Linked DNA regions of Homo sapiens: regions 2, 3, 4, 5 and 6 are each linked to region 1. The links come from fine-mapping of genetic effects on gene expression. A gene starts in region 1. Each other region holds a variant in brackets. All regions are shown on one strand. Distances are from middle to middle.

The links.
Region 2: its variant is fine-mapped to the expression of ZNF438 in whole blood (TOPMed, PIP above 0.99).
Region 3: its variant is fine-mapped to the expression of ZNF438 in whole blood (TOPMed, PIP 0.98).
Region 4: its variant is fine-mapped to the expression of ZNF438 in whole blood (TOPMed, PIP above 0.99).
Region 5: its variant is fine-mapped to the expression of ZNF438 in whole blood (INTERVAL, PIP above 0.99).
Region 6: its variant is fine-mapped to the expression of ZNF438 in whole blood (TOPMed, PIP above 0.99).

The regions. Positions count from the first base shown.
Region 1 is chr10:31,029,862-31,035,236 of GRCh38, reverse strand. It overlaps ZNF438 (zinc finger protein 438), which reads left to right and starts at 3,372. Exons shown (of 7, transcript NM_001143768.2): 1 at 3,372-3,404. LOC105376481 (a long non-coding RNA gene) reads right to left here and starts at 2,729. Exons shown (of 3, transcript XR_001747410.3): 1 at 1-2,729. RefSeq lists a silencer at 3,151-3,710.
Region 2 is chr10:30,891,963-30,897,337 of GRCh38, reverse strand. All of the region lies in intron 4 of ZNF438 (zinc finger protein 438), which reads left to right. Among named protein-coding and RNA genes, the nearest start is that of ZNF438, 140 kb to the left of the region's middle. The variant T/C (reference allele first, on the strand shown) is at 2,142.
Region 3 is chr10:30,987,587-30,992,961 of GRCh38, reverse strand. All of the region lies in intron 1 of ZNF438 (zinc finger protein 438), which reads left to right. Among named protein-coding and RNA genes, the nearest start is that of ZNF438, 42 kb to the left of the region's middle. The variant T/AT (reference allele first, on the strand shown) is at 3,084.
Region 4 is chr10:30,841,873-30,847,247 of GRCh38, reverse strand. It overlaps ZNF438 (zinc finger protein 438), which reads left to right. Exons shown (of 7, transcript NM_001143768.2): 7 at 1,675-2,616. The coding sequence ends at 2,287. Among named protein-coding and RNA genes, the nearest start is that of LINC02644, 120 kb to the right of the region's middle. RefSeq lists an enhancer at 1-486. The variant A/G (reference allele first, on the strand shown) is at 2,596.
Region 5 is chr10:30,872,021-30,877,395 of GRCh38, reverse strand. It overlaps ZNF438 (zinc finger protein 438), which reads left to right. Exons shown (of 7, transcript NM_001143768.2): 5 at 331-398. The coding sequence starts at 362. Among named protein-coding and RNA genes, the nearest start is that of LINC02644, 150 kb to the right of the region's middle. The variant T/A (reference allele first, on the strand shown) is at 3,108.
Region 6 is chr10:30,863,084-30,868,458 of GRCh38, reverse strand. The region is part of intron 5 of ZNF438 (zinc finger protein 438); the gene reads left to right. Among named protein-coding and RNA genes, the nearest start is that of LINC02644, 140 kb to the right of the region's middle. The variant T/C (reference allele first, on the strand shown) is at 2,357.

The DNA.
Region 1 (5,375 bases):
GGATTTTGTTTCCCTTGGTCTTGATCCTGAAGGATAAATGATGCATGTTAGTTAGGCAAGGCGTGGTTATAATAGTGTTTTTCAAATTTTTTTTGATTGAAATCCATAGTATGAAATACATTTAACGTTGCAACCCAGAATACACACATGTGGCTGAAAGTTTCCCCTAATTTGTGTTGGGAAAAAAATACCCTTATTACATGTGATACAATCTGATATTTTGTATTTTGGATTCTGATTAGTGTTTTTCTGAGTAGCTACCCTTTAACCGATCACAAAATCAACTTACTGGGTCATGATGACCACCTTAAAAAATCAAATAAAAGCAGTCATGCAAAGATGGGATGGAAAACAGTGAAGAAGATACCCATACACTGTGGTCAGTATTTTAGAGCTAAGTCCATATTTTGGACTTCCTAAGTCCCTCTGTTTCTTGCATAATTTGTGCCTGGTTGTATGAAACTTGAGACAGATTAGTGGTTATGGCTGTGGGTTCTGAAGTATGAAGTCTGGAATCTTGACTGTGTTACTCAGCAGCTGTGTGACATGGGCACTTAACCTACTTACCTTGTGTTTAAAATGGGGATAGTAACAGTTCTTATCTAGTTGCAAGAATTCAAGGAAATAATGCAATGCTTGGCACAGAATCAATACTCAGGAAATATTAGGAATTATATTTCTTTCACTTTTATTTTCCCCATACATTAAGTACTCTGTTTTGTCTTAATTCAGCTTTTCTTAGCTTGCTAAGCAGGACCAAGGGAAGAGATGTGTGTATTGACATAGAGGGCTCTGGAAGCCAGATTGCTATGGGCAGCAGATATCAAAGAGAAAGAATCACAAGGGGGAACTGAAAGCCCAAGGGCCATAGTGGAGGGCCTCAGTGCTTCCAGTGCTAAACCTCCAAGGTCCAGGGTTTTATTTTCTTTAAAAAAGCAGATCCTCTCTTTAATAACAACACTTTTGGCCCTAGCTTCTCACTTCCTGTCTAGGTCAAATTCCAGTTTGTTACAGAAAGTTGACTGAACGTGAGTGGTATTTTCCCACAAATTTCTACTTGACATTCCTTGAGACTGTGATCCTTGCTTGGGTACCTTTACTGTTGGCCATCTTTTGTTCACTGCGTTTACTTTTTTCCTGCATCTAGCAAAACAACGACTTTTTTTTTTGAATACCTGAGATTTCAAGAGAAAGTATACTGAACAATACGATGAGAAGACTATATTCTACAATGCCATCTTTCAGAGGCAAAAGTATCTATAGTAAAAACATTTGATACATTTGGTGTATGCTTCTTACCCATTTCCACTCCAAAAAATAACAGATGACATGTACCTGTGAAACACTCCCATAAGGTATACCTAGAAACTCACTTAAAAAAATTACGATTTTTAGAAATGATATATATAAAACATTTTATAAGCATGTAAACTATTAACAATTTAAAGGTTTCTTAAAATTGTTTTGCAAGGAAAAACATAAATATCACTGTTTTAAAAATATGCAGGACTTTAAAAAATGTTAATTTTTCTATACCTCTGCTCTACAGAAAAACCTTATTGTTACAATTATGGTACAGCCTTTACAAATTTCTTTTACATCATTTGATAATAACTAATATTCAGATAAAATATACAAATATTTTTTCAAATCAGAACATTTAAAAACACTGACGTAGATTTTTCTGGAATAATAAACGTTTTTATTTTTAACCAGCTCAGATCTCGAATTAAAGCCTAATATTCCCATCATCACTCTTTCCTGTAAAAATAAGACAGCACTTTCAATGAGAGTGGAAATAAACCATTGTTTCAGGTTTTACTTACAACTGGAGCTGCCTTGCAAAATCCCTGCCCTGGCCATCTGCCGTGGTTCCAAATAAGTTTGTAAAAGTGAATCTTGCCATTTTCAATACTTCCTCCTTTGGGTCTATTTATTCCGAAGTCTGTTTTTCTCATTCTTTTAATTTTTTTCCCCCCAAGACGGATTTGTCTGAGACACTTTTTTGCCATAACATTTGTTTTTTCTGCTTACGAGAGTGTAAGAATTCCACAAGCCAAATGTTAATATTTTGTTGTCAGTTCTTTAAGCCTTCATTTTTTCCGTCTATCGAGCCCTTTTTTTTAACCAGAACTCATTGCTTCTGAGAGTATAAAAGAGCAAAGAGGCCGGGCGCGGCGGCTCACACCTGTAATCCCAGCACCTTGAGAGGCCGAGGCGGGCGGATCACGAGGTCAAGAGATGGAGACCATCCTGGCCAACATGGTGAAACCCTGTCTCTACTAAAACATAAAAATTAGCCGGCTGTGGTGGCGCGCGCCTGTAATCCCAGCTACTCAGGAGGCTGAGGCAAGAAAATCGTTTGAACCCGGGAGGCAGGGGGTACTGTGAGTTGAGATCGCGCCACTGCACTCCAGCCTGGGAGACAGAGAAACACTCTGTCTCAAAAAAAAAAAAAAAAAAAAGTGGGGAGCAGAGAGCCGGACTTGGACACGGGAAGGTATCGTGACATGAGTGGGTCGGGGGCTGGAAAGTTTGCCCAGGCGAAGAAGTGAACATGTTTATCCGGATCACCGTTTGTTAAATGAACAGCAACCCATAGGTAGCTTCACCGAGCCGAAACGGGAAAGGCGGCAGGCAAGGGAGAAGCTAAAATCTGCAAGAAACGGGCTGGGCTGGAGGCGGCGCCAGGGCAAGAAGGGCAGGTGGGGGCCCGCGGGAGCCGGGAGCCAGGGGCGGGAGCCGGAAGGGCGGGACCCAGGGGCAAGGCCTAAGTGGGCGTGGGAGGGGCATAGTCAAGAGATGGGCGGGGACTGCTCGGGGTCTGGGCGGAGTCTAGCGGGAGCCGCGTCGAGCCGGGGAGGAGCGAGGGACCCTGGGAGAGCTGTCTTTTCAGGGCTGAGGACCCGCCAGCACCTGATGGAGAGCAAATGGCTGTTTCCACACGTGGAGAACTTTTAACGAACACGTGAGGAAGGCGGGCAATGTCTGTGGAAAAACTACCTCACAACCCAGGCGTCTTACTCCAGCCCCCAGGGCGACAGCTTGTTTACAGTATTTCTGAAGGTCTCCGTCCCCTTTTGTCGGCCCCTCCTCCTCCTCTAACCCCGACTTCAGGCTTTGAGTGAGGCTTTGGTAGAGCAGTCGCCGCCGCAGGCGCCCCGGTCGGCGAAGCCCACAGGCATGCGGGCGCAGAGGCCGTCTGCGCCTGCGCGGGGTGTCTGCTACGGGGAGGTGCGTGGAGCTCGAGGGCGTGGAGCTCGGGGGCGTGTCTCCCGCCGCGGCGCCGGGGCGGGGCGAGGGCGGAGCCTGGGGGCCCAGCGGCCCGCGCCCCGTGGCTTGACCTCCCCGACTGCTGGGCCCGTGACGTCACCCCGCTGTGACGCGCACGCTGTAGGAAAACTGTAAGTTTACGAGGATTCCTGCAGCTCCTAGGGCTTGCGGGGCCCGCTGGCAGCTGGCAGTCCCGGCGGTGGTGGTGGCTCTGGGGGCGTCAGTTCCTTGGGGAGTCGCCGATTGTGGCGAAGGGACAGGTGTCTGCTCAGAGTGGCAGCGCGCCCTGCTGGGCGGTAGGGACCTGGGGTGCGGGAGGCGAGGCCGCGCCCCGTGGGGCCGGGCCAGCACCTTTTCCCCTGGGGCGGGGCGCGTCTCCGAGCCTGGGAGCGAGGCCTTAGAAGGGGCGGAAAGTCCAAATGGAGAGTCCCTTTTTTTCTTCCGTGATAAAGGGACTTAGATTCCTTTTCTTCCCCCTCTCAGCCTTGGAGTTTGACATGTTAAGTAGGGGATGGAAGCTTCCTCTCAGAGAATAGGAATCCTATGTCCTGGCCGTTGGGATCCCACAAGTGACCAAGTCATCGTGGACACATTTATAAGATAACCAGTTGCTGCCTCAGTTTTCTTTTTTGTGTAAAAGGGAGGTACAGCAGCCTCTGGCCTCCCTAATGGTTGTTCCCACAGCACTAGGAACACGTGAGATAACACAAGTGTGTAAATTTGCTAGGAGAAAGCTTATACACAGACACTTGGTTATTCTGAGGAATGTGGTAGCCACTGGCTATTTGACCAGGAATCTTGTAGAAGGGGAACTTTTTCACTGTTTTGCCTCCCCCCGACAACCTTCCCTCCATCTGATTCTATACCACACTGGAGCCTGTTGGGTGATCGAACTGTTGTCACTAAACTTGATAGAATGGGGATCCCAAGAAATAACAGGTATCGTTAGCACGGTACTCTTGGCAATTACAATGCCCCCGTTGTCTGGGTTTTGCAGAGGAAGCTTTCAGTGTGCTGGAACTAGCACATTATAGACAACACAGACTCACTGAGTTTTAAGGATTGCTGTATCGATTTGGAATATCCAATCATCGTATCTGACTGCTTGAATATTTTGGTCAAGGGGTACTACATTATCGATTAGTTATTACTAGACTATAATGCCTCTCAAACTCCGGGACTAGTAGTCTTCAGGAACTTTGAAGGGAAGAATACTGTGCACACTTCAGGGTGTATTTATACAGGAGCTCGAGAGTTCACATTTCTGTAAATTCATTTCAGGAGTGTGATATCTTTTCATCCAGGTAGGAAGAGCCTTTGAATCAGAAAGCAGGGCTTCTAATTTTTGTTCTATTCGTTAACTAGCTTCGTGTCCAAGGACAAGTCACGCAAACTTGGAACTTTGTTTTTCTTATCTAAAATGAGAGCCGATGGTTTATCTGTTTGTTGGTTTTTCCAGGATCAAATGAGATCACGAGAGTGCAAATGAAAGGCTAAGTGTGCTATTGTTATTAGGAGATTCGCATTGGTCCCCTAGCCTGGATGAGATGTGAGTCAGAAATCTCTGGAAATAGAGCAGCAAAGAAGACAGCCTCCAACCTAGCAGGGCTCATATTGCAGTGGGAAATAGACAACGAACAATACGTGCATAATGTAATTTCAGGTAGTCATAAGTGCAGTGAAGGGAAGGAAGAAAGGAGGACAGTGGGGGAACAGGGAAGGTTGTTTTTGGTGGGATCTGTCAGGAAAAGCCATTCAAAGGCAGGGACACTTGAAGTGTGAGGGAAAGAGCCTGAGGTAAGAACATTTCAGAGAGGAATAATTAATAGCAATGAACACTTAAAAAAAGTAGAGCTTACCATATGTAAGGCACTATTCTGAACACTAAATTAAATTTTTACAAGTCTTTTGATGTAACCTAGTATCTCCCTTTCATAGATGAGGCAACTGACACACAGAAAGGTTAAGAATTTGCCAAAGTTGCACAGCTAAAACGTGGTAGAGACTATTTGAACGTGGGCAGTCTGACTTCAGAGTCCAGGCTCCAGGTGACTGTATTTTCGGCCTCACAGCAGGAACAGCACAGGACAATGCTCTGAGGT
Region 2 (5,375 bases), 140 kb after region 1:
ATAGAAAGAAGTTAACCAGATCCAATCTTCAGAGTGGCTGTGTTGATATCCTATGGCCTGAAGAGCCCTAGGCTAGTACTTCCCTTTTTATAGGCAGTATTTACTTTTGTATAAAATATGTTCCTCAAAAAACTACCCAGATATACAGTGTGTAAAAGTAAAACAAACAAAAAGACATATGCTAAGAAGATATTCCTTTACCAGAGTACTAGTAAAACATTATACAATTCAAAAAGAATATGTCATTCTTTCTGACATAGATGTATGTCTAGTATGAATATTGTATACTTTGTAAATATTCTTTAGTTTTATCATTTTTCTTTACAGTTGAGCACATGCCTGGCTTAAGTCAAGTATGCTTCCAGTAAAAGTTAAAAGACTTGCCACATAAAACACCCTGAGTGATTGCCATTTTTGCCTAAACTTAATATTGTTTACAAGGCCTATGCTTCATGTCAGTACTATGATCACATTTACTTTTTTTATTGTGGTAAAAAACACATAACTTAAAATTTACCTTCTTAACCCTTTTTAAGTGTACATTTCAGTAGTGTTAATTACATTCACATTGTCGTGCAGCCAAACTCTAGAATTTTTCATCTTGTAAAACTGGAACCGTATACCCATCAAACAACTCCCAATTTCTCCCTGGTTTCTTCTCTTCCGGCCTCCCCTCCTCCCCACAACCCCATATCCCCCAGAAACCACTATTCTGCTGTCTATCTTTGAATTTAATTACTCTAGATACCTGATATATATGGAATCATACAATGTTTGCCCTTTTCTGACGGGCTTATTTCATTTAACATAGTCTCCTCAAGGTTCATTCATATTATAGCATGTGTCAGAATTTCCTTTCTTTTTAAAGTTGAATAATCCATTGTATGTATATATCACATTTTGTTGATCCATCTATCTGTCAATGGGCAGTTGAGTTGTTTCACTTCTTGGCTACTATGAAAAATGCTGCTATGAACATGGATGTGCATATATCTCTTTGAGATCTTGCTTTCAGTTTTTTGTTTTTTTTTTTTTTTTTTTTGAGATGGAGTCTCACTCAGTTGCCCAGGCTGGAGTGCCGTGGCGCGGTCTCGGCTCACTGCAAGCTCTGCCTCCCAGGTTCATGCCGTTCTCCTGCCTCAGCCTCCCAAGTATCTGGGACTACAGGTGCCCGTCACTATGCCCAGCTAATTTTTTTGTATTTTTAGTAGAGATGGGGTTTCACCGTGTTAGCCAGGATGGTCTTGATCTGACATGATCTGCCCCTCTCGGCCTCCCAAAGTACTGGGATTACAGGCGTGAGGCACCGTGCCTGGCCTCAGTTCTTTTTGACATTCACACAGATGTGGAATTGCTAGACCATATGGTAATTCTATTTTTAATTTTTTGAGGTACTGCTATACAGTATTCCATAGTTGCTGCACCATTTTACATTTCCAATGGTAAATAAGAGTTTCAATTCCTCCATATCCTCACCAACATTTGTTATTTTCTCAGTTTTGTTTTTTAAATAGTAGCCATCCTAATGAGTGTGAGGTGTTATTTCATTGTGGTTTTGATTTGCATTTTTCTAATTAGTGATCATCTTTTAATATGCTTGTTGGCCATTTGTACATCATCTTTAGAGAAATGTCTATACAAATGCTTCGCTCTGTTTAAGTTGGGTTATTTGGGTTTTGTTGAGTCATAGGAGTTCTTTATATATTCTGGATATTAATCCCTTATCAGATAATTATTTGCAAATATTTTCTTTCATTCTATAAGTTGCCTTTTCACTCTGTTGATTGTATCTGTTGATACATGGAAGTTTTAAATTTTGGTATAGTCCAGTTTATCTATTTTTACCTTTGCTGCCTATGTTTTTGGTGTCATCTCAGTCACATTTACTTTCCATCTTTTCATCTCCAAACACCCAAACTAATTTTTCTAAAGAACAAAATGTAATGAAATATTTAAATAATTATAAAATAACTACTGCAAGACAAAGATGACTACTCCTGAAAGTGAACTCTTGGCTAGCACCATCATGCCCTAACTCGAAGTGTTGCTTCATCCACTAATGTGAAAATGTACACATTTGGAGTACAAAATGCAGTTGGAGGAGTGGATCTAGAAATAGATTGTGGGGACATGGGCAAATA[T/C]AGGAAAACAAAGGAAGAGGAAAGCACACCTAGTTGTATCCTTTTAATTAGGATCCTTGAGTATCCACAAGTAAACTATTTAACAAATCCTTGCAAGAAAAAAATGGTCCTCTAGGGCCTTCTGCGTTCTGATTTTTCTCATCTTTCCTATGTGTTAATGCCTCATAGTCTGCTAACACCTCTAAACAGAGACGAGTTAGAAATTTTTGTTGTAAGGTTAACTTTCAAATTTAGAGAAATAAAGATGCTCTTCAAATATTTAACTTTATCCCAACCTAAATTTTAATAAACTATTGAAGTTGACTAGCAACATGGCCATTTATACCAATTAGTAGTTATAGACTATCAAGACTGTCAGCCGTGCACACAAAAGTACTATAAGCATCTTTTCTAACTGCAAGAGTGTATGAACCAGTGCTTGAATGGTTTTCTGAGATATTTAAAGAAACTGGAATTTAAGTGATTTTTTTTCTTCAAATGCTCTTTCTCCTTGTATAATAATGTTGCCATTGTTCCTTTTTTCTTCCTACTTTTTCTTTCTTTTGTGATTGCTACTTACTCATCTTTCTCTTGATCGTTAGTTCTACACAGATGTTGATAGTTCTCCTTGCCTAATTTTTCTTCCCCACCCACCCAGACTCATTATTCACTGTCCTCAGCCCTGATCGCTGTCCTCCAGCATTTACAAGGATTAAAATGAGCCTGCCAGAGTCTGTGTGGCTATGATTCTCGTTTCAGGGCACTAGAGGACACACACATTAATACTTCCCAGGTGCTGGGTCAGCGGCTTCCTCTCCCACCTGGTGCTCAGGCCAGGTGTTGGTAAGACGGTAGGAACCTGAACTGGCAGGAAATTATTAAGCCTAGATGTTGCCTCTGGACTGTCTAGTCCTCCAAACACCCGAAGCAGTTTGATTCTTAAAAACTTACTCAGAAAAAGAAGCTACTGAGATATTTTCCCTTTTTATTTTCTTTTGGGTTTAAATAAATAGTAATGGTTATTCTACCCATGTGAAGTTTTTACTTCTTAAATAAACCCCTGTAACAAGTAGAGCATCTTCTGCAAAGAGAGTCCATGGATGCTTATTAATACATTAAATGTTCCAGTTAAGCTCTAGGTTAATGAAAATTCAAGTTTTTGAGTGGTTACTTTGTTCTAGTCCTCTGATGTACCATTTTGCTGTGTGCAACAGTACAGTATTATTTGAGTGGTTTTATTCATTAACAAAATGTACCAAAATAAATTTAGCTAGGGTCACAGTGTTTAATTTAATAGTATTACAATAATAACTACCATAATTAGTTTCAGATTTGCCTTCCTTCCCAGAGGATAAGACTTTTTTAGTTTTGAATGCGTTCTGAAGGTATGATAATGACAGCAAAATTAATGTCATGACCTTTATAGCCTGTTTATAGTTTTTCCATGTTGTACCCTAAAGGATTTAGGGAGCAGTGTACATCTAAAATAAACCACTTAGTATGGACAAGTTAAAAATTGGGTTAATTGGGTTCACATATCCTCAGCTGGTAGCACCTCAGTCAAGACACCATTTCATCTTACATAAAGGAGCATGATTTTTACACTATAAAATCATCTTAAAACTGTACCTGTAATGTTTTAAAAAGAAAAACATTTTAAAAGGCTACTTTTTCAAATATGTAACAATGTTTTCTCTAATTATGTTATGTGGTTTGACTTTTTCAATTAGGAAATCAAGTTGTTTTCATAGCAAGAAAATGTTGATACAAACTAATGTGTCATGCTGCATGAACACTAATGCTCACTTCCTTTTGGTGATGTTGGGCAGCAGCACTGTCTCTTGCAACGGACTCCTTTTCCCATTTGTAGTTTGTTGGTGGGACTTCCCATAAACAATCACCCTTCTAAGTCCTGGAGATGGGAAACTTGGTTTTCATTGTTTATATATTTCAGTAAAATACAGTGTTTGCATATTCAGCTAAAGTTGAGACAATTACATAGGCATGTTAGAATCCTTAAACGTTTTGAGTATTTGATTGAAAAATTCCTATGGCAATTTTTGCAAGTGATGGTTTTGAGGCACTTTCATGCGTTGTTAGATAAATCAGTGCAACTTCTTTGAAGGACAGTTTGGCAAAATCTAGAAAAATATTAAGTCAACCCAGAAATTTCTTACTGTGACTTCCTGCAGATAGACTTCCCACGTGTTAGCAAAGATGTACATGCAAGGGTGCACACTGTATGTAGCTTTGTAAGAGCAGAAGGCTAAGAACAATCTAATTGTCAACCAGTGGGTTAAAAAATAATGGTTCCACACAATCAAATACTATGCAGTCTTTAAAAAGAATGAAGATGCTTTATAAGTGCTGAGATAGCAAACTCTCAAAAATATATTAAGTGAAAAAAGAACAGCATGTATAATCTGCTTCAGTATGGAAATACGGACAGGGGACAGAGCTTATTTCTATGTGTTAGTTTCTGTAAACATAAAACCATTTCTGAAAGGGTGCCCAGAAAGGTGCAAAGAGCTGTTGAGCCGTTGCCTCTGAGGAGGGGAATTGGGGGAATAGAATGAGAAGGAGACTTATTTTTCAATTTATTCTCTTTTTTTTAGTGCTTGAACTTTTTTTTTTTGGACTGGTATTCATATTTTTAATCAATATACAAACAGAATGTTAAAAAAAAGTTTTTGAAGACTGTAGCAATGTAAGTAAATTCTTAATATATAAATGCAATGGTCTTCCCTTATTTGTGATTTCTCTTCTCATTTCAGTTACCTGAGATACAGTACAATAAGATAGAGTTTTGATAGAGACCACATTCACATAACCTTTGTATGTTGTTACATATGTGTTCACATTCACACATTATATGTTGTTACAATTGTTGTATTTTCTTATTAGTTATTGTTAATTTCTTCCTGTGCCTAATTTATAAATTAAACTTCATCATAGGTATGTATGTATAGGAAAAAATACAGTATATATAGGGTTTCGTACTATCCACAGTTTTAGACATCCACTGGGGATCTTGGAATGTATCCCCAGCAAAAATGGTGGAAATGTGATCATTTCAAAAGCAGTGAATTAAATCCAAACTGATCAAAGCCCTGCCAGCCAGATTGATTGAGGAAAACAAAATAAAGAACAATTTCACAATACATGTCTATATTATGGAAGTGTAAATGACAGCCTCTTTATTTTATGGTTTTTATTTTGCTGCTAAGTATCAGTTATTAGCAAATAATGCAATTC
Region 3 (5,375 bases), 42 kb after region 1:
CTGCTAGAAATTTCTTCCACTCGATATGCTAGTTCATCACTCTCAAGTCCAGCATTCCACAAACCCCTAGGGCATGGACATAGCCTTGAGGCGTGTCAGGCTGTTTGCTGCTTTGTGACAAGTGTGGCCTTTATTCCAAGTTCTAGTACCTTGCTCCTCATTTCCATCTGAGGCCTCTTCAGAATGACCTTTACATATTTCTATCAACATTCTGGTCATGAGCACTTAAGTAATCTCTAAGAAGATTCAGGCTGGGCACGGTGGCTCACGCCTGTAATCCCTGCACTGTGGGAGGCCAAGGCAGGCAGATCACCTGAGGTTTGGTGTTTGAGACCAGCCTGGCCAACATGGCAGAACCCCTCCTCTAATAAAAATACAAAAATTAGTGGGGCTTGGTGGCGCATGCCTGTAATCCCAGCTACTTGGGAGGCTGAGGCAGGAGAATCACTTGAACCTGGAAGGTAGAGGTTGCAGTGAGCTGAGATTGCACCATTGCACTCCAACTTGGGCGACAGAGCAAGACTGTCTTAAAAAAAAAAAAAAAAGAAGATTCAGAGTTTCTCTAGTCATCTTCAGAACCTTCACCAGAATCACCCTTAATGCTCCATTTATGGCAATGCAGGTTTTTTTCTATCCAGCTCCTCCACAGTCTTCCAGCTTCTACCCGTTACCCAGTTCCAAAGCCACTTCTTCATTTTCAGATATTATAGCAAAAATCCTACGTCTTGGTACCAATTTTATGTCTCAGTCTGTTTCTGTTGCTATAACAGAATACCAAAAAATAAATTTATTTCTTACAGTGTATAGGCTGGGAAGTCCAAGAGTAAGGTACTAACATCTGGCAAGGGTCTTGCAGATGGCAAGAAGTTTGTTTTGCCCCATGTTCAGCCATAGATTAGTAGCTTGGATTATTCATTCCCAGTCACTCCTGAGCGAAGCAAGCCTTGAGCATGCCCACAGTCTAGTAAACTGCCAGGGATACTTTCATATTAAAGCCTGGCTTCCTAGGAGTTGATCTTGGGGCAGAAGAGCTTATTGTTCAGCCACTGTTTGATCAGAGGTTATACTTCAGCCCCCGAGTGACAGTGAAGCTTCCTTTTTTAATTGATCTGTGTGGCTTGTGCCCATATCAAGCTCTGATTGCTCAAGTGGATGCAGCCTCCCACTTGGGCACAGCCTTCCTGACCTCTGTGTTTACTGTGAGCTGGCTGTCTCTTTTTCTAGTTCTGTTAAACTTCTGATAGTCCTAATTTGTTGGTTGCTGCTTGTATCCTGGGGCCATGAGCACCTTCTTAACTATGTCAATTCCCTCAGACAGAGCAGAGGAACTTTTTGTCCTTAAGGGCTGCTGTCTCCAGTCTGCATCTCCCCACAGGTAGAACCTTGCACCACTGCACAGAAACTGGGGGCAGGAATAGTGACTCACTTCTTCCAGAGTGACACCCCTGCTATAAAAGGGTGTTGGGAGCATGGGCATTAGCCACTTGTCTTCTTGGCTTGCCCCTATGGATATGGAACCTTTGCCCCACCAGCAAGTTGATCCAGGAGTGATAGAAGCCCAGTGTTTTCAGCCTGCTGCACCTAGAGTAGAACTTTTGCCCCACAAATGAGGGCTGGCTAGAGTAAGGAAGCCCTGGCCCTCTCAGCTGTGCCTCTACAGAATAGAAACTCTACCATAGAGGGCTAGGGAAAATGAACAGTGCCAGTGGCTTGTTCTACCAGGGTGAAAATGCAGCCCCAGCTTGGGAGCTGAGGGGAAAAGGAGCCCCCATATTCTTGACCGGACCTTCTGGACTAGAGCTCTCGAGTAAGTAAAACAGACTAAGACATAAGTCAGAGCTTGGAGGTGCAGGGGAGGTAAGGTGGGAGCAGGTCATGGCTCAAATGCCACTGACAGGCTCTTACCAAGATTTAGAATATTTTCTTGAATGCATGTTTCTCCATTTATTATATACTCTTCAAACAATTTCCAGTTTAAGTGGTTGTTTTAAACAATTTTTTTTCCAGTTAAATTGTTTTTGTTGGGGAGAAATTCTATGGCACTCTTCATTCCTCCATTCTGGAAGTTGTCTCTTGGTTTTGCTCATTAAAAAAAAAAAGATATATCTTCAATCTCTCTTAATCTATACAGGTTACTTTATAGATTCTTAATCTTTACGTTCCTTCTCCATCCCTTTAAGTTTCATACAGTTTACCTGTTGAAGAACCTGGGAGGTTTGATCTGTAGAATTTCCCACATTCTGGATTTTAATGTGTGCGTATTTGTGGTGTAGATCCACACGTTTCTCTGACCTCTATAATTCCTATAAATTGGCAGCTGTCCATGAACTGGATCAGACTCAGATTTGATTCCTTTGGCAGTTCTATACATAGAATTTAATGAAGTTTAGGATACCTCTGAATCACCTGGTGGGCTTGTAATAATAAAATGCAGATTACTGGGTCCTATGCCCAAACCTTCTGATTCAGGAGATTGGAGGTTGGACCTGAGGGTTTGTATTTCTGGCAAGTATCTGAGTGAGGCTGAGGCTGCTGGTCTGGATAACCTACTGTCAATGTTTGGTTGCATCTTTTTTTGTGATCTTAGCAGCCATTTATGCATATTATTTGTATCTATTTGTTCATTAAGGTTTGAAAAATAGTAACATTCTAATTCTTTTTATTTTTTTCATTTATTCATTGGAATATTTTTATAAAGAGATACATGTCCTTATTTCTTATTCAGTTACCCAGAGTTCTCAAAAGACAGGTAACATAAATTCTTGATTTTTTCCCTTTGATATATTTCTTAAGATAATGAATTGGTTCTCTATCATCTCTTAAAGGTGACCAGTTTTTTAAGAATATTATTATGAACTTTTAGAATTTAACGTATTAGTTAATTCATTTCAAGTATTACCATCACTGAAGCTCAAATTATTCCATCTTTGGCCAATGGAAGCCTCTTAAACTTAGCTCCTGAGTCCTAGATTCAGCTATTTCTCTTAGAAGCCCTACTGTTTAAGGGGTGATCATGTTTTCTCTCAGCCCTTTCTGTAGACAGAGATCAGAAGTATGTGCACATATTGAAGATAAAATAAAAA[T/AT]ATTTCATAAGTTTATATTGGTGTTTCCAATTCAAACTTGAGACTATGGTGGAGATGATAGTGTGTTTAAATCTTCTTTCTGTATCTCTTTCCTCTGTTTTCAAGGATATGAGTGCTTATAGAACTGGAAAGTCCTACAATTATGTATTTTCATCCTATAGTGCACACACAACAGTCTCAGAATGACAACACCACAATACTACTCAAAACATTAAAATCCATATTTTTGCATACATTCTCGCCCCCTTAATCACATTTAGGACTGGAGATGTCTTCTGAGACTTTAGTTTATTCAGCAACCATTTAGAGCATCTTCTCTGTCTCACACTCACTGCTAGAAAGGGGATACAAAGAGATGTAAGATATGTCCCTGTTCTCTGAAAGCTAAGGGTCAGGGTTATTGGGTTATGTATCATTCTGGTATAGGAAGATGTGGCCATAGAATCTGGGATTCTGTTCTTCTTTAAAAGAAGTTAATGCTAATGTTAATTCTTCTTTACTTGCATGTTTCTTAAAATAAAACCCTTTCTCTCTACTCTTATCAGGGAGCAGCTTCCTTTTGGTGGAGCTCCTTAAATACTTTCTAATCTCCCTTACGTAGTATATTATTAGTCAGGGTTCTCCAGAGAAACAGAGAGAGAACAAGAGAAAGATATAGAGTTTATTTTAAGGAATTGGCTCACAGGATTTTGGGAGTTGGCAAATCAAACATGTAGAATACAGCAGCAGGCTATATACTTAAGTAAGAGTTGGTAATGGTCTTGAGTGTAAAAATTGCAAAATAGGCTAGTAGGCTGGAAACTCAGCATTTCTATGTTACCATCTTGATGTAGACTTGCCTCTTTTTCAGGTAACTTTTATCTTAGCTGTTGAGGCCTTCATCTGATTGAATAAGGCCCACCACAGTATGGAGTCTGCTTTATTTCAAGTCAACTAATTATAAATGTTAATTACATCCACAGAGACCTTCACACAACATCTAGATTAGTGTTATACCAAACAGCTGGCCATCATAACCTATCCAAAGTGACTCATAAAATTAACTGTCACATCTAGGTTAACTGTTTATTGCCAAAATTGATATTCTTTCTAAAAAACTGTAAACTTATATAATTTTATTGCTTGACTGACAAATTGGTTTCATCATATTGGCGAACCTATAAAATAGTCCTATTAAGAAATTATTTTAAAAATAAAGTTATTTCTAAAACATATTAACATATAGCTATATTCATTAAAGCAAAACTGTTTTAACATTAAAAATAGCGTAAATATAATTCTCAGTAAAAGCTTACATTATTTAGTTTCTTAGCTATAATTTGTACTAATATATTTATTAGGTACAATAATTATAATCTTGTTATCTCTCTCTTTCTCTGGAGAACCCTGACTAATAATATACTACATAAGGGAGATTAGAAAGTACTAAGGAGCTCCACAGAATACAGCTCTCTGTATTTTCCTGGAAAAAAAATTTTAAAAATACGGTTGTATTTTATCTTTAATTGCTTCATAAAATTGTAGTCTTTTTCAGGTTGCATTTTGTGATTGCTACATTTGAAATTATTGATTTTTTTCAAGTTACTGTTTTCTATATAAATTGTGATTTTTAAATTTGAGAATGTAATCTCTATGTCGATAATGAGGTACCTGGTAAGTTCAAAGCAAATTCTATTAAATTTTATTTTGTAATAGTTTAATATGTAAATATTCTAGCACATACATTTTCAAAGCTACTATTAAAAAAAACAGTAAACTCGATTTACAGCACCTTTATTCAATAAAATTTTTATGACAAACTTGTCAAATAAATTGTGTCTATTATGGAAATCTTTTAAACATCTTAACCAAATTTAGATGCTGCTAAATTGTAGGCATTCTCAAGTTCATTTTATTCTAGTACATAATATAAACTTATTTAAGTAAAAAAGTAAGTTCGCCATAAAAATTAAATCTTGAATAAAAGATTTCTGTCTTAGTTTGGGCTGCTCTCTCAAAATATGACATACTGGGTGGCTTAAACAACAATTCATTTCTCCCGGTTCGGAAGGCTGGAAAGTCAAAGATCAAGGCACCAGCAGATCAGTTTCTGGTGAGGGCCTGCTTCTTGGTTTGCAGACCTGGTTTGATCTTCTCATTATGTCCTCACATGGCCCTTCCTGGGTGTGTGCACTTGGATGGGGGGTGGTGGGTGGGGAGAGAGAGAGAGATCTGTTTCTTTTTATAACAGCATTAATCTCATCAGGAGGGCCCCACCAACATGACCTAATCTAACGCTAATTAAAGGCACTA
Region 4 (5,375 bases), 190 kb after region 1:
GGACAGACCCAGAAAAGCACCACAAGTTCCCACTCCAGTCCACATGACTGGCAACCTGGCCCCCAGGCTTCAGGGCTTCTCTGGCTTGAAGGTGGGGCTTCACCGGGGACCTCCCCTTTTCTGCCCAGGAGCTTCTTTGCTCCCTGCTTCTGTTTATGGCACCCAGGCTGTTCATGCTGAGGGGGCACCTGCAGGCTGGCACCGAGCTGTCCTGAGCACCCCTTCCTCAGCCTCCCTTCCATGCTTATTGGCACCCAAAGTCTGGAGCAGGCCAATGGGGTAGGAGGTGGGCATATCAGCACTGCCTCAAGCGTGTGCACACCCAACCAGGTTACAGCAGAGCCCAGGCTCAGCCCCAGCCTTGCTTTGAGATTGGAGCAGGTGCTGACAGCAGGGAGAAGCCAGGCAGCAGGAGCAGGTGCTTCTTGAGCCCGTGGGGGGAAAGGGGCCTTCCTGGACCCCTGAGAGTGCAGAGATGCCTGGATCTGCAGCCACAGCAGGGTAGCTACAGTGATGCCTGGGAGGGCAGGAGCGCTCCTGCCTGCTCCCAGCTTCCAAGAGCACAGGGGTGCCTGGGTCACAGCTGCAGCTTGGGCAGCTGCAGGCAGTTGTGCCTGGTAAGCTCCCACACCGTCAACTTGGAAAGGGCAGGGCTCGTGCTTGTCCCCAGCTCCCACTGGCTCCATGAAGTGTGGCACCACCCCTGGCCCAGCTCTGCCTCAGGGCCCCTCTCTACCCACTCCTGCATGCCCTAGTGTGCTGTTTTCCCCTGCCAGCAGGTGACTCAGCCTGGCCCCATCGCAGTGGCTCTCATGGCGGCAGGTTTCAGGGACTGCCCACCTCCTCTCCATGTTTTCCCAGCAGCAACAGCAGGCAAGGTGCAGGTGGTGCAGTGGCCCTGGCCAACCCTGCACAAATGAACCTGACACTCTCAGGACTAGCCCCACAAGTCCCGGCTGCACCTTCAGCTGGGTGCTCACTGGCTCCTTTCTGAATATGAAATCTTCTCCTCTTCCCCAAATGAAAACAGACGCTCTTGCCAAATGTAGTTTGGACATTGTACCTAAAAATCAAAATCTAACTCTAGGAAAAGAAGGAAGAAGTGAGGTTTCATGGTTCATTAGTGAAAGGCACAGAGGTCTTAAAGGGGACAGAAATGTCTAAGAAAAAGGAGAAACTCTAGAAAAGCAAGGAAGAAATAGGGTAGGCACCCTTTATTTTTACTGAACATGACAGAGTGAGCCAAAATTGAATAGAAGGTATTGGTGCTCAAGGTTAGGGAGAGCCACAGTGGGTAGGGTGGGACCGTTACCTTCAACAGAACCGAGGGTGTTCCCGTGCCCTTCACGCGCTCTTACGTGACTCTTCCACGTGATTGCTCCTGTCCCTGTGGTAACCAAAGACGAGTTAGCTCGCCTGGGACAGATGCGTGAAGAGGACTGTTGACTAAATGAACCCTGGTAGCTGGAGAAATGTGTGGCCACAAGCAGGAGTGACAATTAGTATTCACCACGGTCCTTGCAGAAGGTCTTCCCAGGTGCTCTCTGTTTACCCCAGCCCTTGTCTTTCTCGTCAGTGTTATGTTTTAGATCCCTGAAGGCTGACAGCTGAGAGGAAAGATTCCAATTGCATTTTTCCATGAAATCTTATCTTCATTATTATTGGCCTTTTCAGGGAAAACAAGTCCAACCTGGAAGAAGACTTCCTTCTAAACCAGGCAGACGAAGTCAAATTACAAATCAAATGTGGTCGTTGTCAGATTACTGCTCAGTCTTTTGCGGAAATAAAATTTCATTTACTTGATGTTCATGGAGAGGAAATTGAGGGCAGGCTACAAGAAGGGACCTTCCCAGGAAGCAAGGGGACTCAGGAAGAGTTGGTGCAGCACGCTAGCCCCGACTGGAAAAGGCATCCTGAGAGAGGGAAGCCGGAGAAGGTTCATTCCTCCTCCGAGGAATCACATGCATGTCCAAGACTGAAAAGGCAGCTCCACCTTCATCAGAATGGCGTGGAAATGCTCATGGAAAATGAAGGACCCCAGTCAGGAACCAACAAGCCAAGGGAAACCTGCCAGGGCCCTGAGTGTCCTGGCCTCCACACGTTTCTCTTGTGGTCCCATTCAGGCTTTAACTGCCTGCTTTGTGCAGAGATGCTGGGACGGAAAGAGGACCTCCTCCACCACTGGAAGCACCAGCATAACTGTGAGGACCCTTCCAAACTGTGGGCTATTTTAAATACGGTCTCCAACCAGGGAGTGATCGAACTTTCCAGTGAAGCTGAGAAATGAGACCCCAAGGCAGCCTGGGGTTAAGGAGAGAGCTCTGCCGCCACCTTCCTTCAGAGCTTCGTGCTTTATGGTGGTGCTTAGTCACAAAGATCAAACAACAGGATTGGTGTGAGTGAACAGAAATGATTTTTGTACATGGTTTTATTTTCTTAACGAAATAAAATATAAGCTCTCGAAGCATATTTTTCTAACTATATGCAGTCTTATTTTAAAATACGTACTGATTCTTAATATCTTAGACTTTCAGAATAAATAAAAAGATCAAAATTTGAAGATTGAAATTTAGCAGAATATAGGCTGTTCTTCAA[A/G]TACAGCTCTCAGTGAAAACATGCATGTGTCCTTCCTTTTGTTCAGATGTTTTCTGCTTATATAGATTGACAAATGTCAAAAATGTCCAGGCAGCAAAACCCTTTTAATCTCAACCATAGTATCAAGTTAGATGGTAAATGCTGATATTTATTAAATTCTCTGGTTTATTTGAATATGATATAGAGCAGTATTTTAATAAGATTGTCATCTACAATAATTTAAAATCCATGTTTTCAGGACTCAGATTTTTGTTTCTTGTAATTTTGCTATTTTCTTAAATGCACATTTCATTGAAGATTAGTTGTTGGCAAGTCTTATAGCTGTAGTGTTCCATATCAAAATAATTTTTTAAAAAATTTAGTACTTCAGCTAATAAAAAGTCTACTTGCTTGGTAAAAAGTTATTTTCAAGTAGTCTTTGGGACCAGAAAATTTACAACCTGGAAAATGAACTAGATAGTTCAGTCCAGATGTGTAGGGGTCTCAACTGCTTTCCCTCACTCCCAAGTAACTTCAGAGGGTTGTCGCTAGCTGATCAATTTTAGATGGAACTGTACTTTTCAAGCCCAGTTCTCTTTGAAAGTCAGAAGTAAATGATTGCCTCTTAAATTCCTGGGAAATTACCTCGAATCAGTAAAGTTGTCATTTGAAGCTTCTGGCCATCCTGGCTGCAAAATCATTTTCTTAGAAAAGTGGAGTTTCAGCACTCATCCTACTGATAATCTCAGTCTTGGATGAAAGCACCATACGTGTGGCCAGCCCTGTTTGCTGAAACTCAGCCCAGGTATGGTCATAATATTTTGTGCTCAAGGAAGTTACCTAAACAGAGAAAGAACTAAATTCTAATTGATAAGCTGATGGATCTTACATCTTTTTTTAATGTCTGATTTTAAAAGCCAGTGTTTGTAGACATGATTTGCCTCAAATAGTACAAGAGAAAACTTAATCTTTGTCTTTTTGCAAATAGTTTTGTAAATTTGGGAATAAGAGAGTAGGGATAGAAATATCTGAAAGATTGTGTTGTGGTTTGTCTGTTGATCACGCTTTACCCAGTTTCAAATAGGGAATATCAGACCTCCACTGTTTGATAGTTTTAGAACTTCTTGGTTAATAATGAAGTCGCTTTACCATTCAAACCAGTTCCCAGTTTGTTTTTTGAAATATTGGTCTCAAAGACATTACCAAATGACTTCTACAAAGAATACTACTTGAATTCAAACCATGAAACTTGAATTCAAACTATGAAATAATTCATAGACTGCTCAATCCTCAGATGCTAAGTCGTATTTTAGAAACACTGGCCGGTTGGCCAAAGCAGAGTGGAGTGTGTGGAGACAAAGGTGTGGGACAGAATACACCCACCCAGCACTCGGGGAAAGTCTCAAGTCCCCTAGATTGTGCAGGAGCCCACCTGTGGCCTTTATTTCCCCACATATTCTTACAGCAAGGCCATAGGCAGTCTCCAGAAAGGAGTACAGTGAGGAATGGGGAAAAGAGCAAAGGTATGGAGAAGATATGATTGGCTCATGATTCAGCACTCTGGCTGGATCCCCATTTCAGAGCAGCTGCATTTCCGAGCATTTCAGAGCAGCAGCTCCAATGTACTAACTAAATTTAGATGACTCAACAGAGCACTGATCCATAGGGAGAGGGAGGGCGCAGGTGGGGAGCCATGAAAAAGTGACACTCATCTTTAAGAAAATTCTTTTTGTTTTTTTGGAGTGCTGCTCAGGCTGGAGTGCAGTGGCACGATCTCGGCTCACTGCAAGCTCCACCTGCCGGGTTCACGCCATTCTCCTGCCTCAGCCTCCCGAGTAGCTGGGACTACAGGCACCCGCCACCATGCCCGGCTAATTTCCTTTTTGTGTGTGTGTGTGTGTGTATTTTTAGTAGAGACGGGGTTTCACCATGTTATCCAGGATGGTCTCGATCTCCTGACCTCGTGATCTGCCCGTCTCGGCCTCCCAAAGTGCTGGGATTACAGGCGTGAGCCACTGCACCCAGCCGAAAATTCTTTTTTTAAGATAAGGAAGGTTAGTGGGGCATAGGACCCTCCCCGGATGTCAGTGTGTATGGGTTCATTTGTGGTACAGTGTTACAGTTCTCAGCTTTTGAAAACTCCCCTGCCTTACAATGCAGACAGCCCCAGTGCCACCCAAAATAAGGAGTTTCTGGCCCTTACTGGTAGTGCTTCATTGAGAATGGTGGGAAGAGGGCCTCCTACTGGGGAGGCAGGAAGATGAGAGAGAGTATTTAGCTAAAGTTACTTTGGGAACAGCTCAGAGCCTTTCTTGGGTGTGGAGATGTTACTGGAACAGTCCCAACCTGTATACTTAGGCCAGAGGTGGTGTGGTGTGCAACAAAGTGCTCCAATACTTACTGTGTGTGGCCTCGAGAGAGTGTCCCCTCTTAGGCTCCATTCTCTCCTCTGTGAAATGGGGGTGACAATCCTATGTCAAGGCACTGTTGTGAAGAGTAAAAGAGACACACACGAAATGCCTGGCACCTGTGGGCCATGTGATAACTGGTGGCTGGTATTTATTAGGCTTTTGGCCAGACTTGGGAGAAGAGGTATTTTGTACCATATAAAAGATTGTAAAAAGCTTGAGTAGACAGATCTTAAGTGCCGAATTCAAGGATGGAAACTACTAGGAACCACAGAAGTTGGCATTTTTGCAGGAAATGCATTTTATTTTTATTTTATATATTTTTTTCGAGTTGGAGTCTTGCTCTGTCATCCAGGCTGGAGTGCAGTGGCATGATCTTGGCTCACTGCAACC
Region 5 (5,375 bases), 160 kb after region 1:
ATATGAAGCAATTATCAGAGAGTACATTTTCAGAGAATCCTAACTTTGCCTACTTACACATGACCCCATGAGAGCAGAAGTGTGACTAAGGCCCCTGATGTGTCATTGCATCTGTCTCTAAGCCCATTCTAGTACATTCAATAAAATCCTATTTGTAGAAAAATGAGAAGAAAATAAAAACATCAATTCTTAATAGCTCAATCCATTTCTTATTACTCATATAGTTATAAAACAAACTTTAAAAAACAGCTTAGAATTTCTATATTTAGTATGCATTAACATGCTCTCTCAATTACTTTCTAATACTTATTTGTGCTTGCTTATTTTTAGGAAAGATACTATTCAAGTCCAGTACATCATAATGCAGAATTCTGTATCAGTACCACCAAAAGATGAAGGTAAGTTAAACTGCTGAGGAAAATGGTGATGAGTCTGTTATAGTTTTAATTTGATACATTGAATGTCATTGACCTCTAATCATAAGGTAACTTATTTCCTAGAATTAAAAATAAAAATTATAATTATATATGAAAACTCATTTCTTTTGGTAAATAATTTGAGTGTATATGGATTCCTGAGTTTTAAGGACCTGTCTCCTTTATAGGCTATAGCGCCTTGAGAGCCCAGCCATCTCATTCCACCCAAAACTCACAGAGCCCTGCTTATTCACTGGCAGTTAACTGGCACTAACAGATATCAGTAAAATTAAAAAGTGTTGGCTTTATTGAAGCAAAATAACACAAGTATTTTAGTGAGTAGAAGAATATATGCATATATATTCACACACACATCTGTAGACATACACTTAGAGGATATAGAATTTGTGTATACATTTCTTTGCCTGTTTCCCCTGATATCCATTTAAAAAGAAATAGAAAAACTATTTTACTTTTTGCAATGTATAAAAAATAAAATAATGATTTTTTAACAGGCACTTCTGGACCTTCCAGAAGAACCTGTACCTCCAGATGGAGGTAGAGTCCTTTCTTCATCAAGAGTAATTAAATTACCCTCACCATAAAGGGTACACTCTAACCCCGGGGAGAAATACCAGTCTTTCCCTGCCCCATCTAGTCTCTTCCACACAGAAGAGAAGTTCTGACATGTATGAGAAAAAAGACATATCTTTAATGAGGCAAAATTAGGTTGCCTTAGTGGAACATGTAGCTTTTAGTGAAAGGAGGGAATTTGTTATGAAGGACCCTTAAATAGAGCAAACACCCTTTGATCTCTCTACCAGTGAGAAAGGTAGTATCATAACTCTTGAGCACATGGAATCTGGATTTGAAACTCAGTCCTACCACTTAACTGTAAAACTTTAGGTGTATCACTTGACCTCAGCTTCCACATCTGTAAATCTATAAAATGAAGATAATAAGTTCCACTCTATAGGATATGTGGAGACTAAAGGAAATAGCATATGTAAATCACCTAGCATATTGTTGTTTGCATAGTAGGCACTTATATGATGATAAAACTACCATTCTCAATGGCTATTATTAATATCTGGGACATCCTCATCTTTGAGACTGGTCAGTGAGATGGCCATGAGGCCGCCTCTTGCCTGGGATGCCTAATGGCCTTGGAAGGCCAAACATGCTCCAAGGGGACCCATGGGGAGTAAGCAGGAATTAGACCGCTTGGTTTGATTCTTACCCAGGAGTTGATCCGAAGAGAGAGTGAGAGTCCTTGAGACTCACACAAAATCCAGCCGGGAACACTAGGGCAAGAAAGGAGATGGGCAAACCCCAACTAGAAATAAAGAGCATGTGTTTTTCTTGAGTGTTCTCTGGTATATATCCTCTGGAAGATTTGTGCAGCACTTGGTAGCTGATGAAGGGTTTGAAATTCAGTGTCCTAGCTGGTATTACCTTTTTTTATCCAAGCAAGCAAGGAGAAGCTTAGGAGAAAAAATAATGGAACAAGTATCAGGAAAGCTGGACTCCATTCCATACCTGCCTCCAACCAGCTGTGGAACCCCAGGCAAAGTTATTTTGCCCCTGAGCCTCAGTTTTCTCATTGAAAAATCGAGAATGACTAGGTGTTCCTTTCAGGCTCTAAAAAGGTGAGTCTATGTGAGTAACTAAGCAACAAGCTGCTTGGCTCTGGCTGATACAGAGGGAGAAAGCACTCACACCTCTTGGCTGCTTTGCTTCTCATCACAGTTTGTTTTGTTCTGATGCCTACCTCTCTGGGCTATCACATAAGCTTGGATACTTCCATTGACCGGAAAGTAAGACCCCTTGGCCCTACCCAGAGCTCAAGTAAACCTCCTTACCCAGTCTTTTCTGGGACTAAAGATGCTTAAGCCCAATCCTGGAATTTGACAGAGGATATATAATAGCTTAAAAAAACCTCAATCATGTGCCTCCATTGTGATAATCATTCTACCTACAACTTTACATCCTTTATTTAATCTTCACAATAAGTTAGACGTAAACCTTATTTTACAACTTCAAGATTAGGTACTTTTTGCCAAGACCACCAACCAGTAAGTGACTGATCCAAGATTTGAACTCAGATCTATCATAAAATTTATAAAGAATATTTATATAAATTATAGAGAATATATATTTATAAAGAATATTTAATTTATAAAGATATTTCTATAAGAATTTACAATTTATAAAGAATATTTCTAATAATTTTTGATCATCTCCTTTTTCTCTCATCAAACATACTATGCTTAATTACACATATGAATGCTTAAAGCCATTTTAAACCAAAGTGAGCAGAAATTATAACTTAAATTATGGAAAATTACATCAATAAGGAAAAATAATATATGTGAATACATGTAAGTCCTATGAATTGCCCAGTTATTCATTAATTTACTCATTCATTCATTCAAATGCTTTCTGTATGTCTTAGATTAATATTAATATTTTTTAACAAAAGCATCAGATGTATTAATTATGATTCTGTTTATGATCAAATATAATTTATGGCTAGGTACAGCAGCTCCCACCTGTAATCCCAGCACTTTGGGAGGCTGAGGTGGGAGGATAACTTGAGGCCAGGAGTTAGAGACCAGCCTGGGCAACATAGCAAGACTCCATCTCTACAAAAAAATTTCAAAATTAGCTAGGCGTGATGGCTCATGCCTA[T/A]AGTCCCAGCTACTTGGAAGGCTGAGCTAGGAGGATTGCTTGAGCATAGGAGTTTGAGGCTGCAGTGAGCTATGATCATGCCATGGCATTCCAGCCTGGACAACAGAACAAGACCTTGTCTCTAAATATATATATATATATATATATATATATATATATATATATATATATATACACACACACACCCCCACACACCCACACGTAATATATTACATATATATTTGTTTAATTGCATGTACATAATTTGTGTGACATGAGAAGTTTGCTGGGCACATGCTATTTATTAATTAAATGCAGATTGATTTATTTAACAAACCATTGATGGCTAGCTATAAATTATGATACCTTTGAATTTCCAACTTATAAACACATACACACGTATTATATGCATTTCTGTATAAAATTCAGATAAGACATCACCAACAGAGTTGTGAGGCTTAAATTAAGGAAAATATGCTGTACTAACATACTGTCCCCAAACAAAGTTCATATGGTAGAAGCAGGTTTAATGATCACCAAGGTAATTCATACGAGGAACTATCAGATGCTATGAAGAATCCAAAGGTAAATCATACAGAGCCTGAGCTTTTAGGCTCTAAAATCCTGTTGGAACAGCATATGTGCATGTCCTTAATTAGAATAAAGCATGACTAATGCTGTACTAGAAGTGAGTATGACATACTTTGAAAATCAGAATGAAAGGACAGTTGGCTAAGCCAGAGATTTTGAGGCTGGTCAGGAAACAAAATGGAGGAGATGACATTTGTTCAGGATATTAACATATATGTACAAGTCAAGCAAGTGGAATTTAAGCCAGGGGTTTAAAGCTAGGAAGAGCTGGCAGCATTATTAATGGAGAAAACAAATTTGAAATTCTGGTTTCTTCTATTTAAATGTTATCTAATTTCAGATAAAGAGATTTAACATTGTACTGTCACTCTAACGATAAGTTATACTATATTACAGATTTTTCTATTATAAACTAGTGTCACCGTTATTCCTTTCTGTGTGAGAATATAATTTATAGAATTTTGAGATGTTCATGAGACTTATTTTGTTACAATTTTCTATATCATTCTTTCAGGATTTAGGGATAGAATTTAGTTTTCCATAACCTCCTTTTTTTGTCTGTTATTTTCAAATGATGAGCTAAACTGTGTTTTTCAAAAAAGAGGCATGAAAACAACATAATAAGGCCAACTATTTAGATTTGGTGAAAGAAAGACAAAGTCACCACACTGATTAAAAATGCAAGTGAATTTATTTACTTCCCATATAAGAAAACTCATACAGGTGAGCAGTATCACCAAATGATTCTCTGACAGGGACAATGTATGTGTCTTATGTGCTAAGAAGTAGTTCACTGTGATTATGCCAATTGACCATTGAAGTTTGTATCTTGGGTAGTCAGAATGAATTTTAAGTTCCTACACAGTTGGTTAATGCAAGTCTCATTGTTCATTGGTCAGGAAGGAATCTTCATTTAAGTCAAGTGAGAGTCTGTTTTACTGGAGTCAATTCTTTTTTTTTTTTTTTTTTGAGACAGAGTCTCACTCTGTCACCCAGGCTGGAGTGCAGTGGTGCGATCTTGGCTCACTGCAAGCTCCGCCTCCCAGGTTCATGCCATTCTCCTGCCTCAGCCTCCCAAGTAGCTGGGACTACAGGTGCCTGCCCCCACCCCCGGCTAATTTTTTGTATTTTTAGTCAAGACGGGGTTTCACCATGTTAGCCAGGTTGGTCTCAATCTCCTGACCTCGTGATCTGTCCGCCTCGGCCTCCCAAAGTGCTGGGATTACAGGTGTCAGCCACTGCGCCTGACCTCTTTTTTTTTTTTTTTTTTTTTTTTTTTTTTTTTTTTTTTTTGAGACAGAGTCTTGTTCTGTCACCCAGGCTAGAGTGCAGTGGTGCAATCTCGGCTCACTGCAATCTCCACCTCCCGGGTTCAAGTGATTCTTCTGCCTCAGCCTCCCGAATAGCTGGGACTACAGGAGCGCACCACCACACGTGGCTAATTTTTGTATTTTTAGTAGAGAGGGGATTTTACCATGTTGGCCAGACTGATCTTGAATTTAACCCCCTGGCTTAAATTCCACTTGCTTGACTTGTACCTTGTAATCCGCCCACCTCAGCCTCCCAAGGTGCTGGGATTACAGGCCTGAGCCACCGTGCCTGGCCGAGTCTCTCAATTCTTAGTCACTTGTCAGCCTTACAGTTAAGTTTGCCATTTCCTAGACAAGTCTTCTGCAAGTAGAAAAGTTTTCTTATACA
Region 6 (5,375 bases), 170 kb after region 1:
AATTAGGAAGAGCAACTTATGATTACTTTTGTTTGGATAAAATAATTTTAAATGACTTTGAATACTTTTTGTTTAAAAAAATCCTTCAGGCCGGGCACGGTGGTTCACACCTGTAATCCCAGCACTTTGGGAGGCTGAGGCGGGCGGATCACCTGCGGTCAGGAGTTCAAAACCAGCCTATCCAACATAGTGAAACCCCATCTCTACTAAAAATGCAAAACATTAGCTGGGTGGGGTGGCGGGCACCTGTAATCCCAGCTACTTGGGAGGCTGAGGCAAAAGAATTGCTTGAACTGGGGAGACGGAAGTTGCAGTGAGTTGAGATCGTGCCATTGCACTCCAGCCTGGGCAACAAAAGCGAAACTCCGTCTCAAAAAAAAAAAAATTCTTTAAAAACACTGCTCTGTTTTTTGAAAAGATTATATACTACCAAGAGTATCTTGTGATGATATTTCTTAAAATTGGGGGAAAAATATAAATGTCATTTGAATATAACTTATACTCCATAAATATAAATTTAAGTAAGATAAGTTTTTGAAACATTATATAAGATTTTTGTCAAGCATTTTATTTGGTTCATATTCTAATGTTGACAGCTAGTGATATTTTAATTATAATTAATATTTGTGTTAGGATGACTTACCTTTTAATACTTTATTATCAAAACTCTCTCCTATTGATCTGCCATGTTATATTCTCAAGGAAACAAAGGTGAAGGGAATAAAACCTAACAACAAAAAGTAAAACATTTCTAGATGTGATTTTCTATTCTCATTCACACAAACCTGCCCACTCGTACTCATCAACACACACAATTATAGAATCTCAAAAGACATAGGAAGTTAGATTTCATCTAATTCAGTTGTTCTCAGACTTTGTAGCTTCAGGACCCTTTACACTCTCAAAAATTATTGAGGACTCTAAAGAGCATTTGCTTGTATGGGTTGTATCTGTCAATATTTACCATATTGGGTGATTATAAAAAATATTGAAATATTTATGTCATTTTGAAATAACAGCTCATTACATCTTAACAAAAATAACCTAGTTTAACGAAATTGACTATACTATAAAACTAATGACAAAAACCACAATTACTTTTGCACCAACCTAAATATTTTTCTAAAGCAAAAAAAATAATGAGAAGACTGGCATTGATTTACATTTTCTGCAAATATCTTTAAATTCTGGCTTCATTGAAGATAGTTTGAGTCTCATATCTAGTCCTGCATTCAGTCAGTTGTGATGTTGTATATGTTGACATATTTTTTTAAAAGCCAGCTTTCCAGTAGTCAGAAAGGAAGGGGATATTTTGGTAGGCTTTTCAGATAATCATGGATATTTTTCTTTGATACTATGCCAAAGTTTGTCAGATGGAAACTTCTTTCAGTTTAATTGTACTGTGAAATTTGAAACCCTGTCCATGTACTTTTGTATTCTATTAGATTTTGAGTCTCATACTTAAGTGATTCTTTTATCCACGCATGTAACGTTAAACTAAACTGGTCATTTAGAAAACACTAGTTAAGTGAGTTAAGCAAATCTTCCATATACTTCATTGTGCGATATTTTAAAAATCATTCATTAACGTAAGCACCAGTTTTCGTTTTTGGTTTTTTTTTTTTGAGACAGAGTCTCGCTCTGTCGCTCAGGCTGGAGTGCAGTGGCGCGATCTCGGCTCACTGCAAGCTCCACCTCCCAGGTTCATGCCATTCTCCTGCCTCAGCCTCCCGAGTAGCTGGGACTACAGGTGCCTGTCACCACGCTCGGCTAATTTTTTGTATTTTTAGTAGAGGAGGGGTTTCACCGTGTTAGCCAGGATGGTCTCGATCTCCTGACCTCGTGATCTGCCTTCCTTGGCCTCCCAAAGTGCTGGGATTACAGGCGTGAGCCACCGCGCCTGACCCATAAGCACCAGTTTTACCTGAAAAGTAACTACTGGGAAACTTCAAGTTCCTGGTGGTGAATTCAAATTTTCCAAAATTCCAATTGCCACTTGAAAGAAAATGACTTTTATCATTGGCAACAAATACTGTTAGAAGTTCTTTCTTGTAATGCCAAGTTCCATTCATTCACTTTTGAGAAAATGTCTGCCAGATACCCAAGTCTTAATATGTTCATTCAACATATTTCAGCATATGTCTGTCAGCCATTTTATTCAAGTAAAAATTGTATTCCATGAAAAAAGTAGCCAGGTCAGCTTTACGGCTGAATTGAGTGCTTGTCCTCAGAACAACAGTCCTATTTCCATATGCAGCAGACATGTACTCTGACTGTGAACGATTTCATCACAGAATATTAAAAAGGCATGTACTCAAGGATCAAAATTTTATAAAACTAAAATTTTGTACTGCTT[T/C]TTTGTTGTTCCACTGTGAGAGTACCACAGTGAAGAATATGACTGCTTGAACAGTTTGTGGGCACTACCTTACTTGGCTAAGTTGCTAGAGAAGTTTTACCCCATCAGCGCAACAAGTGCAAATGTCGACACAAGGCAAATGACATCTTGATATGAGTATGAAAAGAGTATTCGGGACCCTTCCTGAGGTTCTGCAAACCCTACTTTGAGAAACACTAATCTAATCTAATCCCCTCTTGCTAAAGAGAGGAAACTACGGCCAGGAAGGCCGAAGGATTATTATCTTGCTCAAATTCATTCCAGCAGTATAATAAATAGAAACACCAAAGCCAGACGTCTACTCTCTATCATACACGAAATGCAGTTTGTCTTGTTTTCTCTGAGGAACTCCTCCCCCAGCCTTCCGCAAAAAGAAAATTCCTCAGATCCAAATCATTACACCATAGCACTGATATATTATCAAGTTTAGTAAAGGAGCAGGACTTGCCACATAAGGAATTTAGAAATTGTTTTAGCATTTTAGACTTTTCTTTCAGTCCTAGTGTTCTTTAGTGTCATCAGTTTTAGAAGAAGGTGGTGTAAGATTAAGAAGTATCTAAGAAATGTATATTATTTTTAAAATTATAAAAGACCTTTGTCATTTTTTTTCTTCATTTTTACTCATTGAAGAATTACTTTGTCGCTGCTTAAAAGTGTCATTAAATGTATTGTGTAATTGTTGCTTCAGAAAAGTCAGATTCTGGTGTGAGCCTGATTTGGTCACCAGAAGTTCTGTTAAAAGAAGGCCATAGATACAGTGCTGTAGGGTATTGCGCATTGCTATGTGTGAGTTCATTAACTACCTCTCCAGTGACCATGCTGTAGATGTCTCTTAGAAGAAAGACATGTTCTCTCTCTCCTAACAGTTGCACTGTGATTGGAAAAAGGTTGTTCAAAAAGATCTTTCTTTTCTCAACATTGAGATGGATTATGTGGCACTCACCGGTCACTGGAAGAGACTGACATGTAAACAGATAAATTGCTAAACAACTTAGTTCTAAGTTCAGCGTGTTGGAATGGAGGGAGAACAGCTTTGGTGCCAGACAGTCCTGGGTTAAAATCCAAGTCTCAATACCTGCTTTGTGATCTTGCAAGAAGTGTTGTTTTCACATCTATGGACTGGAGGTGTTAATACCAAGAATTGGTGAAGGACTTGAGATAGTAGATTAAGCATTCAGTCTAACTTCTGACTGAGGGGCATTTTAGTTGTTCAAAATAGAACTTCAGGATTCTAGGGGTTCGAGGGAAGAATAGAAATAGATGAGTAGAGGCGGTGTATATGTACACATCTACCATAGATTGTCTCAGGAAGAAAAGGAAGGAGATGGGGCCTAACGACTCTTTCTTGTTGCTGTTGTTTTTCTGTTTTTGTGTTCAGCAGTAGCATAGCAGAAGGAAGCCATGTCAATATGGTTGAGAGTTAATAGTTCGTTCCTTCAGTAAAAATTATGTTGTACAACTGCTAGCTGCTGATCTGGAGACTGAGACCCTGTCAGTAACAAAACAAACCCCTGCTCTTTTGGAGCTCACATTTTAGCGAGGAGACAGATAATGTAATATCATCGTGAAGGTAAGTACCTCGAAGGACAGTGAAGCAGAAAAAGAAAATAGCAAGTGATCACATGGAGCTGAGCAGCTCCTTTTAGACAGGATGGTCACAGGCCAGCCTCCCTGAGAGCTGGGGAGCTCACCAATGGTGCAGTATCCCCGAGGCACAAGGGGCCTGGAAGGAAGGGTAGCCTCCAGACCAGGGTTGGGAATACTCCATTTCCTTATTTTCAGATGCACCTTTTTGTACATTTTAATATATCAGGATTTGAGCATTGTATATTTAGAGTTATAGTACTTCTCCTTTCCCCCATCACAGAAAAGGTTTTTATAAATTTATTTGTGTGGCATAATCAAAGACAAAAAGGGAGTTTACAAATAAAAGGGACAGTGAATGAGTTCCCACATAATAGCCTCTCTTTTTTCCACGAAGTCAATGTCAAAAAACATTGGCAAGAGAGAGATGGCCCTGGGGATAGGGCAGGGGTGGGACAGAGGGAGAGTGCCTCAGAAGAGCAGAGGAAGGAATGTGGGCCGCCAAGAGTCTCTTAGGGACAAGTAAATAGACTGTGGAATCGGTTTTGAACTAGAAACTTTAAACTTAGAACACTGTCCAGCGTTCACAATGGTTGGATTTCTCCAGCACCAAATAACAGGCGGTGGAAGTGGAGAGCACAAGGTGGGGCCAGCTAGGCAAGGTTCTGTAGGAAGACAGCAAGGGGGCGAACCTACAATATGAGGGGAGTGCGTGTGGATGCTCAGCCAGGAGGCCGGCTCTGGAATGGGAGGATCTACCTAAGGAGACCACTCACAGGCACACATAGCCTCGGGGCAAGGAGAAGCAGTGGGCTGTGTCATCACTCCATCTCCAGGGAGGTGGGAAAGTTAACTCTGACATACTCTTCATCTGTGGATGAGAATAGATATTCCCTTCAACCCAGGTTTCATAGTCATCACTAAAAGACAATAAACATATTGATGGAGAAGAAGGATGGCAGAATTCAAAGGCAAAGGAATCCAAAGTAGTCACCACAGCTTTCAAACTCTGCCGCCTTCACTCTTGGTACTGGCTCAGGTCAGAATCTGATGGCATCAGTCACACGACAGGATCTGTAGATGCCAGCTAACTCATAGACAACTAACCTGGTCAGCTCCTCAAAGGTGACCAGCACAAACCAGTCACCTCAGTACCCACCAGTGCCTGGGACTTCATGTTCTTTTTTATTATTTTCTTCAAAGTGTCAGTATTGTAGATGGTCTCTCTATGTTAAGGAAAGGTGTGTCTTCATTAAAGAAATAAGGAACAGTCAAGACTTACCAGCAGAAATGTTAGGGAATAATTATCAGCATAACAGGGGAATACTTGACTTCTTAAAGATCCGTGGCTGTCCACCCTTGTGCATTTGTACTTACAAATCATGAACTATTTGAC